2 separate regions of the Homo sapiens genome follow, and region 2 is linked to region 1. Evidence: fine-mapped expression QTL. Tissue or cell type: tibial artery. Region 1 holds a variant in brackets; the other region holds the start of a gene. All regions are shown on one strand. Distances are between the middles of the regions.

The links. PIP is the estimated chance that this variant, and not a neighbour inherited with it, causes the effect.
Region 2: DECR2 starts here. The variant in region 1 is fine-mapped to the expression of DECR2 in tibial artery (GTEx, PIP above 0.99).

What each region holds. Positions count from the first base shown.
Region 1 is chr16:293,895-301,411 of GRCh38, forward strand. It overlaps AXIN1 (axin 1), which reads right to left. Exons shown (of 11, transcript NM_003502.4): 6 at 3,828-4,357; 7 at 3,162-3,332. Among named protein-coding and RNA genes, the nearest start is that of PDIA2, 14 kb to the left of the region's middle. The variant C/T (reference allele first, on the strand shown) is at 3,169.
Region 2 is chr16:398,785-404,676 of GRCh38, forward strand. DECR2 (2,4-dienoyl-CoA reductase 2) reads left to right here and starts at 3,101. Exons shown (of 9, transcript NM_020664.4): 1 at 3,101-3,259. The coding sequence starts at 3,180. NME4 (NME/NM23 nucleoside diphosphate kinase 4) reads left to right here. Exons shown (of 5, transcript NM_005009.3): 2 at 206-339; 3 at 595-696; 4 at 843-955; 5 at 1,435-1,970. The coding sequence ends at 1,558. RefSeq lists enhancers at 325-910, 1,924-2,233, 2,081-2,666.

The DNA.
Region 1 (7,517 bases):
CGGCCAGGCATGGTGGCTCACACCTGTAATCCCAGCATTTCGGGAGGCCGAGGCGGGCAGATCACCAGAGGTCGGGAGTTCGAGATCAACCTAACATGGTGAAACCTCATCGCTACTAAATATACAAAATTAGCTGGGCGCCTGTCATCCCTGCTACTCTGGAGGCTGGGGCCCGAGAATGGCTGGAACTGGGGAAGTGGAGGTTACAGTGAGCCGGGATCACGCCACCGCACTCCAGCCTGGGTGACAGAGTGAGGCTCAGTCTCAGGAATAAAAAAGACAACAAAAAACCAACCCTCATTTGCCTGTAATCCCAATACTCTGGGAGGCCAAGGTGGGTGGATCGCCTGAGGTCAGGAGTTCAAGAACAGCCTGGCCAACATGGCAAAACCATGACTCTACTCAAAAAATACAAAAAATTACCCAAGTGTGGTGGTGGATACCAGTAATTCTAGTTACTCGGGAGGCTGAGGCAGGAGAATCGCTTGAACCTGGGAGGCAGAGGTTGCGGTGAGCTGAGATTGCACCACTGCACTCCAGCCTAGGCAAGAGTGAGACTCCATCTCAAAAAAAAAAAAAAAAAAAAAAAATGGCCAGGCGCGGTAATCCCAGCACGCTGGGAGGCCGAGGCGGGTGGATCATCTGAGGTCAGGAGTTCAAGACCAGCCTGGCCAACATGGTGAAACCCTGTTTCTACAAAAATACAAAAAGTTAACTGGGCATAATAGTGGGTGCCTGTAATCCCAGCTACTCAGGTGGGTTAGACAGGAGAACCACTTGAACCTGGGAGGTGGAGGTTGCAGTGCGTTGACACTGGCCTGTTGCACTCCAGCCTGAGCCACAGGAGCGAAACCCCATCTCAAAAAAAAAAAAAAAAAAAAAAAAAGGCCAGGCGCGGTGGCTCACGCCTGTAATCCCAGCACTTTGGGAGGCTGAGGAGGGCGGATCACGAGGTCAAGAGATCGAGACCGTCCTGGCTAACACGGTGAAACCCCACCTCTACTAAAAAAATACAAAAAATTAGCCGGGCGTGGTGGCGGGCGCCTGCAGTCCCAGCTGCTCTTGAGGCTGAGGCAGGAGAATGGCATGAACCCGGGAGGCGAGGCTTGCAGTGAGCTGAGATCAGGCCACTGCACTCCAGCCTGGGCAACAGAGCAAGACTCCGTCTCAAAAAAAAAAAAAAAAAATTCTTTCATGGAGACTTTTTTTTTTTCTTTTTTTGAGACAGAGTTTTGCTCTTGTTGCCCAGGCTGCAGTGCAATGGCTCGACCTCGGATCTCGGCTCACTGCAATCTCCGCCTCCCAGGTTCAAGCGACTCTCCTGCCTCAGCCACCGAGTAGCTGGGATTACTGGCACTCGCCACCACACACGGCTAATTTTTTGTATTTTTTTTAGTAGAGATGGAGTTTTTGTCATGTTGGCCAGTCTGGTCTCGAACTCCGGACCTCAAGCGATCCACCTGCCTCGGCCTCCCAAAGTGCTGGGATGAGGCTTCTTTTTTTACATTTTATTTTTAACAGCTTTACTGGGATACAAATTATATACTAATCCTAGAGGCCGGCGGATAGCTTTGAGTCCAGGAGGCTGAGACTGCAGTGAACGGTGTGATTACACCACTGCACTTCAGCCAGGGTGACAGAGGGAGACTCTGTCGCAAAAAATTAAAAAAAAAGTCTTAATGAATAAAAAGTATAAGTATGTCTCAAAGTGGAATGTATTAATACTTATCCTAAAATATGGGACATGCAATATTTAGTATATACAGCTATTTAAAAAAAGGATTCGGCCGGGCACGGTGGCTCACGCCTGTAATCCTAGCACTCCAGGAGGCCGAGGCAGGCGGATCACCAAAGGTTGGGAGTTCGAGATCAGCCTAACATGGCAACCACCCCCTGCCCCGGTCTCTACTAAAAATACAAAAATCAGCCGGGCGTGGTGGCTCACGCCTGTAATCCCAGCTACTCGGGAGGCTGAGGCAGGAGAATTGCTTGAACCCAGGAGGTGGAGGTTGCAGTTAGCCAAGATTGCACCACTGCACTCCAGCCCGGGCGACAGAGCTAGACTCCGTCTCAAAAAAAAAGACTCGAAGGCCAGGAATGGTGGCTCATGCCTGTAGTCCCAGCATTTTGGGAGGCCAAGGTGGGAGGATCACTTGAGCCCAAAAGCTTGAGACCCAGCTGGGCAACACACTGAGACCCCCTCTACAAAAAATGAGCCAGGCAAGGTGCTGTGCACCCCTGTTCCCTCGGGAGCCCCAGAAAAACGATGAGCCCGTCCCCACCTCAGTCAGCACCGATGGGGACCCCAAGGCCTTGCGGGACAGGCTTCCAACACAGGCAGGAGGGCCACGCCCCAGGCGCTCAGCTGCCTCACAAGTTCTCATCAAGTAATGTGGAGGGAGATGCGTCCTGGCCAGGGCCTGGGTGAGGGTGGGGGGCAGATCAGGACCTAAGTCTGAGGAAGCTGGGGCCATCCACCCACCAGGGCCAACACTTCCCAGCTGACCTGCCTCTGACCACGACAGGAAGGTGGGGGGTACCACCTCTGTGGGGCCCCTGGCCCTCCTGCTGGGTTCCGGGCACGAGTGCAGGCCCAGGGGGCGAGCAGGAGCAACACCAAGACCGGCCCGGCGGGCAGCGGCAGGGGCTGGACCTGTGGCGCCGGGGCCTTGCTCCACACCACACACGAGGCCTCTGCCCTTCTGGGAGGAGAGAAGTGCTCACGCTACACAAGAGCCTTCCCCAGCCCTCAGCAGGACGGCCAGGTGTGAGCACAGAAGGCTCCTCCGTGGGCACCTCGGGAGTGATGGTCAGTGGGGGCCTTCCCAGGTGACTTAGGTCATTCTCATGTGGGGGTCAGACTGGAAATGACCTCCCGAGAGCATCTGTGCTGCCTGCGGGGTGACAGCCACGTCAGCTTCCCTCCTGCTCGGGGCTTCAGGGACAGCCTCTCTCTGGGGACATGAGGTTTTCCTCCTGGAGACGTGGGGCCCAGGGAGCCTGCTGGAGGGTGCCCGGGAGGGTGCCACAGTGACAGGGGAAGTGTGAGGCGTCACAGGCGACACTCGCCACACACACTGAAGCTGCACACACTGAGACTGTGCGGAGGCCAGGGGTGGCAAAGCAGGCCCCACGAGGCTGGCTGCGTGCGGGGTGCTCACCCGTGGC[C/T]GGTCCTGCGGTGCCTGCTGATCTCCTTTTCCCCCTCAATGATCCACTGCATGATTTTCTGGTTCTTCTCCGCATCCTCCGAGGCACCTGGCACCTCGGTGCTGGCGCTCTTCCCCGACTCAGCCTTCTTGGCATTTCTTTTGCACGCCACGCCCACCTTCCCACTGCAAGGGCAAGAGCTGCGAGTCGCCCTGGCCTCCGGTGGCCGAGGCTGTGCCCCTTCCTCGTCTGCGAGGCCCCCTCCTGGCATCTGTAAGGCTCCCGTGGTGCAGCCGCCGCCCGCTGTCCCCTGCCCGCTTGTCCCCCACCCGCTGTCCCCCGCCAGCTTGTCCCCCACCCGCTGTCCCCTGCCCGCTGTCCTGGTGCTGTCTGGGGGTTGGTTTCCTCTCTAAACACACAGGCAGTCACTGCTCACCCCCTGAAGACTGAGGGCCAGAGCGGGAGCCAGGGTCGGGCTGTGTCCCCTAACCTTCATCTCCCACCTGAGGTCACGGCGTGGACTCCCCTGACCCAGGGCCCAGTCCACTCCCTCCAGCAGAGGGGCCTCCTGCCTGTTGCTGGCGGTCCTGGGTTTCCTGAGTTTTATGAGGAGGTTCTGGCCTTCTGCAGGGACACAGCCTCACCCCAAGCCCCCTCCTCACTGACAGGCGCACGCTCACCTGTGGGCGAGGCCATCACTGGCGTTGGGGGCAGCGCCAACACTCTCTGAGTAGCCTCGGGACCTTGCCCCATGGCTGTGTGGTTCCAGGCCCCAGGCGAAGCTGCTCTGGGCCCTGCGGGTGGCCTCGGCCTCCACCTGCTCCTTGGGCCGGGCTGTGCTGTGGTGGACGTGGTGGTGGACGTGTCGGTGGTGGTGCAGGCCGGCCGCGTCCAGCTTCGCCCCTGACTTGGGTACGTGCTTCCCGTGCCCCGAGGCGGCACCCCCCAGTGCCACTGGCATCTTGGCCACGTGCCCACTGTCCGGGGAGCGATGGCCAGGCCCAGGCGACTGGCGGCCAGGTGTCCTCAGCACACGCTGTACGTGCTCGTCCAGGATGCTCTCAGGGTTCTCCTCGTGTGCATCCCGGAGCCCGGCACAGCCCATGTCCACACAGCGGGGCGGGAAGTGGTGCCAAGCGGGGGCGGGAGGCAGCTTGTGACACGGCCCTGGGGGCCCTGACGATGGATCGCCGTCCTCACCTTCCTCCTCCTGTGTGGGGACAAGCAGCACCATCACCTCTCAGCACCAGCTGCACACTTGGGGAAAACAAAAAGCATCAGGCCTGACCCAGCAGCCCCAGCAGATGCCGTCCCAGCCCAGGGTGGCCGGGGGCCCCTCGCCACCGGTCCTGTCCCTGAGGATGGAGAGGCAGGACGGGGCATAGACAGAAGGAGCGGAGACAGCAAGGCCTCAAGGAATGCAGCGTATGTATCGGCTGTGGGCAGAGCTCTGCACAGATTTAGTTTAGTTTTATTCTTTTTTTGAGACAAGTTCTTGCTCTGTTGCCCAGGCTGGAGAACAGTGGTGTGATCTCAGCTCACTGCAGCCTCCGCCTCCTAGGCTCAAGCGATCCTCCCACCTCAGCCTCCAGAATAGCGGAGACCACAGCCGTGTGCCACCACGCCCAGCTAATTTTTTTGTACTTTGGGGACAGATGCGATTCTCACCATATTGGCCAGGCTGGTCTCGAATGCCTGAGCTCAAGCAATCTGCCTGCCTTGGCCTGTATATATATATATTTTTTGAGACAGAGTCTTGCTCTGTTACCCAGGCTGGAGTGCAATGGTGCCATCTCGGCTCCCTGCAACCTCTGCCTCCTGGGTTCAAGTGATTCTCCTCCTTCAGCCTCCCAAGTAGCTGAGACTACAGGTGTGCGCCACCACACCCAGCTAATTTTTGTATTTTTAGTAGAGACAGGATTTCACTATGTTGGCCAGGCTGGTCTCGAACTCCTGACCTCATGATCCACCCACCTCGGCCTCCCAAAGTGTTGGGATGACAGGCATGAGCCGCCGCGCCCGGCCTCCCATTATATTTTAAGGAGAACCTTGTACAGAACGGCTCTTGGGTTATGTACATGTTGTGATGCTGCCTGACGAGCTTCCACATGAAGCCGGTGGAGTTTCACTTGATTCTCCAAGTTAACAGGTGCTGAAGCTTATCTGTCAGAGCAAACATTTGATCACTTTAATTCCAAGTTGCATCTCATACTTATTTTCTCATCTTATTGGACTGACAAACTAAAACAGTATTGAGTAAATCTGGTGTCAATACAAAAGAAAGAGAGGGAACTAAGTTACCATGTATCTATGTATGTATTTATTTATTTAGAGTCAGAGTCGCTCTGTCAGCCAGGCTGGAGTGCAGTGGCACGATCTTGGCTCACTGCAACCTCCACCTCCCGGGCTCAAGCAATCCTCCTGCCTCAGCCTACCGAGTAGCTGGGATTATAGGAGTGTGCCACCATGCCTGCCTAATTTTTTTGTATTTTTAGTAGAGACGGGGTTTCACCATGTTGGCCAGGCTGGTCTCAAACTCCTAACCTCAGGTAATCCACCACCCTCGGCCTCCCAAAGTGCTGGGATTACAGGAGTGAGCCACCACAACCGGCCTATTTATTTTCATTTTTTTGAGACAGAGTCTCGCTCTGTCACCCAGGCTGGAGTGCAGTGGCACGATCTCGGCTCACTGCAACCTCCGTCTCCCGGGTTCACACCATTCTCCTGCCTCAGCCTGCCCAGTAGCTGGGACTACAGGTGCCCGCCACCACGCCCGGCTAATTTTTTATATTTTTAGTAGAGATGGAGTTTCACCGTGTTAGCCAGGATGGTCTCGATCTCCCGACCTCGTGATCTGCCCACCTCGGCCTCCCAAAGTGCTGGGATTACAAGTGTGAGCCACCGTGCCCGGCCTATTTTTATTTATTTAATTTTTTTTTGAGACGGAGTTTCACTCTTGTGTCCCAGGCTGTAGTGCAATCTCCGCCTCCCGGGTTCAAGTAATTCTCCTGCCTCAGCCTCCCGGGTAGCTGGGATTACAGGCACCCACCACCATGCCCAGCTAAATTTTTTGTATTTTTAGTAGAGACTGGGTTTCACCCTGTTTGCCAGGCTGGTCTCGAACTCCTGACCTCAGGTGATCCACCCACCTTGGCCTCCCAAAGTGCTAGGATTACAGGTGTGAGCCACCACACCTAATCGCAGTGGTGCCATCACAGCTCAAGGCAGCCTCAACCTCCAGGGGTCAAGCGATCCTCCTGCTTCAGCCTGCCAAGTAGCTGGGACTACAGGTGCATGCCACCATGTCCCATTAATTTTTTCTTTTTCTTTTTTTTTTGTAGAGATGGGGAATCTCACTATGTTGTCCAACCTGCTCTTAAATTCCTGGCCTCAAGTGATCCTTCTGTCTTGGCCTCTCAAAGTGTTGGGATTACAGATGTGAGCCACTGTGCCCCACCTACCTCTATATTTTAATATAAACAAACCTCCCAACGTTTAGCACCCAACTCTCACACCTGCAAAAGTATCCAAATGCAACTGGAACAGGCGTGCCCCAGAGCTGGTGTGGGCTTGGCTGCGGGCACCTGCACTGGGGCTGAGGGTGAAATATGGCACTAAAGAGGACAGACGGATGCTGGAGCAGAGCCGGGGGACAGGTGGGTGGTGGGCATCCCCTGGCGGATGCAGCTATGCTGCCTCCCTTTCCTTGGTTTTGTAGGACTAAAGGGCCCGGGCACTCTGGGGAGAAATCTTAACCGAGGGTCTTCCTAGGGACTAAAAGTGTTTGGAGTTTTGATGCCGTTCACTGCCTTGGCCGAGCTCCACATCGGCAGGAATTCTATCATGGGGCTGTGAAATGTTACAGATTAACTTAACCACTCGGCTAATGGTTTTTGTTTTCTTCTTTGTGCTTTAATTTCCCAAATTTCACAATGAAAATAGGTTATTTAAAAAATCTGGAGTTCACGCCTGTAATCCCAGCACTTTGGGAGGCCGAGGCGGGTGGATCACAAGGTCGGGAGATCGAGACCATCCTGGCTAACATGGTGAAACCCCGTCTCTACTAAAAATACAAAAAAATTAGCCGGGCGTGATGGTGGGCGCCTGTAGTCCCAGCTACTGGGGAGGCTGAGGCAGGAGAATGGCGTGAACCCGGGAGGCAGAGCTTGCAGTGAGCTGAGATCGTGCCACTGCACTCCAGCCTGGGCGACAGAGCGAGACTCTGCCTCAAAAAACAAAACAAAACAAAGCAAAAAAAAAAAAAAAACTGGAGTTATTCCTTTTAGGGAAGGACCACCACTCCTGGGCCCTGGTGGTGCTGGATCCACACACCTGTGGGCACTGCCATGCTCCCTGTTGCTGGGACAGAG
Region 2 (5,892 bases), 100 kb after region 1:
GGGACACATTGCCTTGGGTGTCCCTGACAGGGACTATCATGGGGGTGTTTGTGGCTGTGGGCACCATCCCTGTCCCTTCCAGAGTGCCCTGCATAGAGGCAGACACCCTGAAGCCTGGTGACCCCTGGGCTCTGGCTGGGAAACCCGGGTCGTGGGGACGTGAAAGGGTGAGGTGGCAGTGCCTCTGACCTCTTGCCTTTTGAAGGAGGGCCCTCCTGGACCCGGGAGCGGACCCTGGTGGCGGTGAAGCCCGATGGCGTGCAACGGCGGCTCGTTGGGGACGTGATCCAGCGCTTTGAGAGGCGGGGCTTCACGCTGGTGGGGATGAAGATGCTGCAGGTAGTGGGACTCTGGGCTTGTGGGTGTCCCTGTGGGGATGGGGTTGGGGGATCCTTCTCGGCCTTTCACATCCCAGCCAGCGCCGGGGCAGGGCCTGGCTTTGGCAGTTGAAGGGGCAGGAGGGATCTATTCTGCGGTGGGGGTGCTGCCCATGCTGGTGTTATCTGCAAGGTGCCTGAGGTCAGGGCATCACAGCTGCTGTGCTAGTGCCCACGTTTACTGTCTGCGGCTCCTCCTTACCTCAATGCCACCCAGGCACCAGAGAGCGTCCTTGCCGAGCACTACCAGGACCTGCGGAGGAAGCCCTTCTACCCTGCCCTCATCCGCTACATGAGCTCTGGGCCTGTGGTGGCCATGGTACGGCAGGGCAGGGGTGGTGGAAGGGCCTGTGGGTAAAGGGCGTGTGGGTGTGTCTTTCCCCCCAGCAAAGGGAGGGGCCCTGGATTGAGCCCAGGGGCCCTTGGTGTTCCCCACTTCTCCCCAACCATTATCTCTCGCTGCAGGTCTGGGAAGGGTACAATGTCGTCCGCGCCTCGAGGGCCATGATTGGACACACCGACTCGGCTGAGGCTGCCCCAGGAACCATAAGGGGTGACTTCAGCGTCCACATCAGCAGGTACGGGGGTCCTGATACACCAGGCTGCTGCTGGGGGCAAGGAGGGCCATCACTTGGGGTGGTGGCAGATCCACGAGACCTGGCTGTCTTGCTGTGCTAGGATGAAGCCAGGTCGGACATGACAGCTCACACTGGTGAGAGCCGTGTTCTCCCAGGGCACACAGGGCAATGAGGTGTTCCCTTTGTGTTGTGTGTACCGTGCCATCGTTGCCTGTTACCTGACACCCCAAGGGGTTGGCACGGGGCAACTTGGGGGGAAATGAGGCTCCCAAAAGCTGGGGCCTGGGCGGGTCCACGAGGCTGTAAGAGGCCGAGGCCAGGCTGGAACCCGGTTTCCCAGCTCCACTGTTACTCCTTCCCTGTCTGCAGTCACAGGCTTGCTCCCCTAGACAGAGGGCAACGGGAGCAGCAGATGGTCCCTGGGATTCCTCAGGGTGCACATGAAGCCTGAGCCTCACATTGCTCCTGTCCTGGCACAGGAATGTCATCCACGCCAGCGACTCCGTGGAGGGGGCCCAGCGGGAGATCCAGCTGTGGTTCCAGAGCAGTGAGCTGGTGAGCTGGGCAGACGGGGGCCAGCACAGCAGCATCCACCCAGCCTGAGGCTCAAGCTGCCCTTACCACCCCATCCCCCACGCAGGACCAACTACCTCCGTCAGCAAGAACCCAAGCCCACATCCAAACCTGCCTGTCCCAAACCACTTACTTCCCTGTTCACCTCTGCCCCACCCCAGCCCAGAGGAGTTTGAGCCACCAACTTCAGTGCCTTTCTGTACCCCAAGCCAGCACAAGATTGGACCAATCCTTTTTGCACCAAAGTGCCGGACAACCTTTGTGGTGGGGGGGGGTCTTCACATTATCATAACCTCTCCTCTAAAGGGGAGGCATTAAAATTCACTGTGCCCAGCACATGGGTGGTACACTAATTATGACTTCCCCCAGCTCTGAGGTAGAAATGACGCCTTTATGCAAGTTGTAAGGAGTTGAACAGTAAAGAGGAAGTTTTGCACACCCAGTTCCATAACGTTGTTGGATGTATGAGCCAGGCAGGGGTCCAGAGACCACCAGCCTGCAATCCGGAGAACCCAAGCTAGGCGCGAGCCGGTGCTGTGATCCCGCCAAAGGAGAAGCTGCCTTCCCGGGGAAGGGGCAGAGAGGGGCCGGCGGGCTGAGGCCAACCAGCGCAGAAAGGGCCTGGCAGCCATTACTGTAGCGCTGGCGGCTCTGTCACGCCCCTGAAGCCGCTGGCCCGCGGGTGTGTTCAGCTCAGGAGCGGCCCTGCGTGTTTTTCCCCCGTGGCCGTCGCGGACCCCCGTCTTCCAACAGTGGTGCGGGCGGGGCGCCCCGTCCTGGGTTCGCGGCATAGCCCCGCCCGGGCCCCCACGCGGAACAGAAGTAACGGACCCTTTTTTTTTTGTTTTTGTTTTTGAAACGGAGTGTCGCTCTGTCGCCCAGGATAGAGTGCAGTGGCGCGATCTCGGCTCACTGCAACCTCCGCCTCCCGGGTTCAAGCGATTCTCCTGCCTCAGCCTCCCGAGTAGATGGAACTACAGGCACCCGCCACAATGCCCGGCTAATTTTTGTATTTTTAGTAAAGAGGGGGTTTCGCCATGTTGTCCAGGATGGTCTCGAACTCCTGACCTCGTGATCCGCCCGCCTCGGCCTCCCAAAGTGTTGGGATTACAGGCGTGAGCCACCGCGCCCGGCCCCGGACCCTTCTTTATTGGCCTCAAAACGGGTCATTTTGGGAAGCGGCGCGGGGCTGGCCGCGCTTCCCTGGGCCCCGGCCCTCCCCATGGTGTTTACGGGGAGGCGAACGGGGAGCCCAGAGGCTGCGAGCCTGGCCTGGACCCAGGAGCCAGGGGTATCCCACAAGTCCTGGAGGCTCTGAACGCGGCGCTGACGCCGAATACCTGTGAAAAAGACTCGGGGAGGAGACCCGCAGACCGCCGAGCTTCTGCCGCGGGAACCGCGCCCCCGGCCCCGCAATGCGCCTGCGCCTCGCGCGCCGACTTCCAGTCCCAGCAGGCCGCGGGCGGGGGCGGGGCCTCCGGGGAGAATTCGGGGGAGGGGCGGGGCCTCCGGGAAGCAATCAGGGCAGGGGCGGGGCGTCCGGGGAGTGGGGCGGGGCTCCCGGTTCCAGGCGAGTTCGCAGCTGCGCGCCGGGTCCTGGAGGCCGAGGCCGCTCCCGCCCGTTGTCCCCGCAGTCCCCGACGGGAGCGCCATGGCCCAGCCGCCGCCCGACGTGGAGGGGGACGACTGTCTCCCCGCGTACCGCCACCTCTTCTGCCCGGACCTGCTGCGGTGAGCGGGGCCTGGGAAGCGAGCGCAGCCTTGGTGCGGGGTCCGGTCCGCGGGCGCCGGCGCCCCCACGTGGTCCCCGAGGGCTCGCGTGTTAGGAAACCTGTCTTGCCTGGCTCCTTTCTTTCTTTTTTCTTTCTTTTTTTTTTTTTGAGACGGAATCTCGCTGTGTCGCCCAGGCTGGAGTGCAGTGGCACGATCTCCGCTCACTGCAAACTCTGCCTCCCGGGTTCAAGCGATTCTCCTGCCTCAGCCCGGCTAATTTTTATTTTTAGTAGAGAGGGGGTGTCACCGTGTTGGTCAGGCTCTTTTCGAACTCCTGACCTCAGGTGATCCACCCGCCTCGGCTTCCCAAAGTGCTGGGATTTACAGGCGTGAGCCACCGCGCCCGGCCCAACCTGGCCTCTTTCTTAACAGAAAATTTTAGGTTGAAATCATTTTTCCGGAAGACCCAGAAGGCCCAGGAATGCCAGGTTTTGCCCAGCAGCTCTTCATTTTCCTGCAAACGCCTTGGTGTTCACAAGAGAAGGCAGCCCGGGCAAAGGTCGATCCTCCCCGGTCACCTGCCCTCACTCGGCTAATGGGCGGATCCTTTTTTTTTTTTCCTTTTCTTTTTTTCAATTGGCAACATTTTCAAGTTTCTATTAAAATTTTGATCTTTTGCCAGGAGCAGTGGCTCACGCCTGTAATCCCAGCTCTTTGGGAGGCCGAAGCGGGTAGATCACCAGAGGTCAGGAGTTCGAGACCAGCCTGGCCAACATGGTGAAACCCCGTCTCTGCTAAAAATACAAAAAATTAGCCGGGTGTGGTGGCGCACACCTGTAATCCCAACTACTTGGGAGGCTGAGGCAGGAGAATCACTTGAACTCGGGAGGTGGAGGTTGCAGTGAGCCGAGATCGCACCATTGCACTGGGCAACAAGAGTGAAACTCCATCTCAAAAAAAGAAAACAAGTTTTAAATTATGTTCTCCAAGGACAGGTATTGACAATTCTCTCTGAGTGTTCTGCAGGAAAAAAAAAAAGTTTTTTTTCGAAACGGAGTCTCATTCTGGGTTGAAGCAATTCTCCTGCCTCAGCCTCCCAATTCTCCTGCTTCAGCCTCAGTGCGCCCAAGTGGGACTATAGGCACACAATACCACGCTGGGCTAATTGTATTTCTAGTAGAGGTGAGTGTCACCATGTTGGTCAGGCTGGTCTGGAACTCCTGACCTCAGATGATCCACCTGCCTCGGCCTCCCAAAGTGCTGGGATGACAGGAGTGAGACGCTGCACCTGGCCCAAAATTAATCTTTAATAATTAAGAATAGGAAAGGCAACTTGGAGATCAGCAAAAGTTTGCCATCCATCTGGTACAGTTTGTGCCAGTCATACCGATCAGTACACATTTAATGCGTACAAGAAAATCTCTAATAAATAAAAAAGCCATATTATCCCGACGTAGCTTGCTGAATCTCAGGTATCATATTTGATATTAGTGCCATGCAGGGCTTAGGAGAGAGGAAATTATAACCTCTATCTTGTTTAAGCCAGGGTATTTTTCTCTCTTGTATCTACTTCTGTCCATTTCTGTCAAAAGACACAGAAATACCCTTTCCCCCACTGCACTTTGCAAGTTTGTGTCAGCACAAGTTCAGGACCAGCCTGAGCAACAAAACGATACCCCTCTCTAGAAAAACTAGATGAAAAATTAGCTGGGCACTCTGGCATGCACCTGTAGTCCCAGCTACTGGGGAGGCTGAAGCAGGAGGATCCTTCTAGCCCAAGAGGTCAAGGCGGCAGTGAGCCGTGATGGTGCCACTGCACTCCAACCTGGATGACGTAGCAAGAACCTGTCTCAAAATAAATAAATAGGCCCGGTGTGGTGGCTCATGCCTGTAATCCCAGCACTTTGGGAGGCCGAGGTGGGTGGATCACAAGGTCAGGAGATCGAGACCATCCTGGCTAACACGGTGAAACCTCATCTCTACTAAAAATACAAAAAATTAGCTGGGCGTGGTGGCAGGTGCCTGTAGTCCCAGCTACTCTGGAGGCTGAGGCAGGAGAATGGTGTGAACCTGGGAGGAGGAGTTTGCAGTGAGCCTAGATCATGCCACTGCACTCCAGCCTGGGCGACAGAGCGAGACTCCATCTCAAAAAAAATAAAAAATAAATAAATAAATTAAATAAAATACTATAATTTTATGAATTTTCATTTTATTTATTTATTTATTTTTTAAGACCATGTTTCGCTCTTGTTGCCCAGGCTGGAGTGCAATGGCGCAATTTTGGCTCACCACAACCTCCGCCTCCTGGGTTCAAGTGATTCTCCTGCCTCAGCCTCCCAAGTAGCTGGGATTACAGGCATGCACCACCACACCCGGCTAATTTTTTATATTTTTAGTAGAGACGGGGTTTCTCCATGTTGGTCAGGCTGGTCTCGAACTCCCGACCTCAGGTGATCCGCCCGCCTTGGCCTCCTAAAGTGCTGTGATTAGAGGTGTGAGCCAAGGCACCTGGCCGAATTTTCATTTTAAATCATTGCCGTATAGCAATATGGGAGGTGTATTTTAACAGGGCTCTTTTATTTTTTATTTATTTTTATTTTATTTTATTTATACATATTTTTTGAGACGGAGTCTTGCTCTTTTGCCCAGGC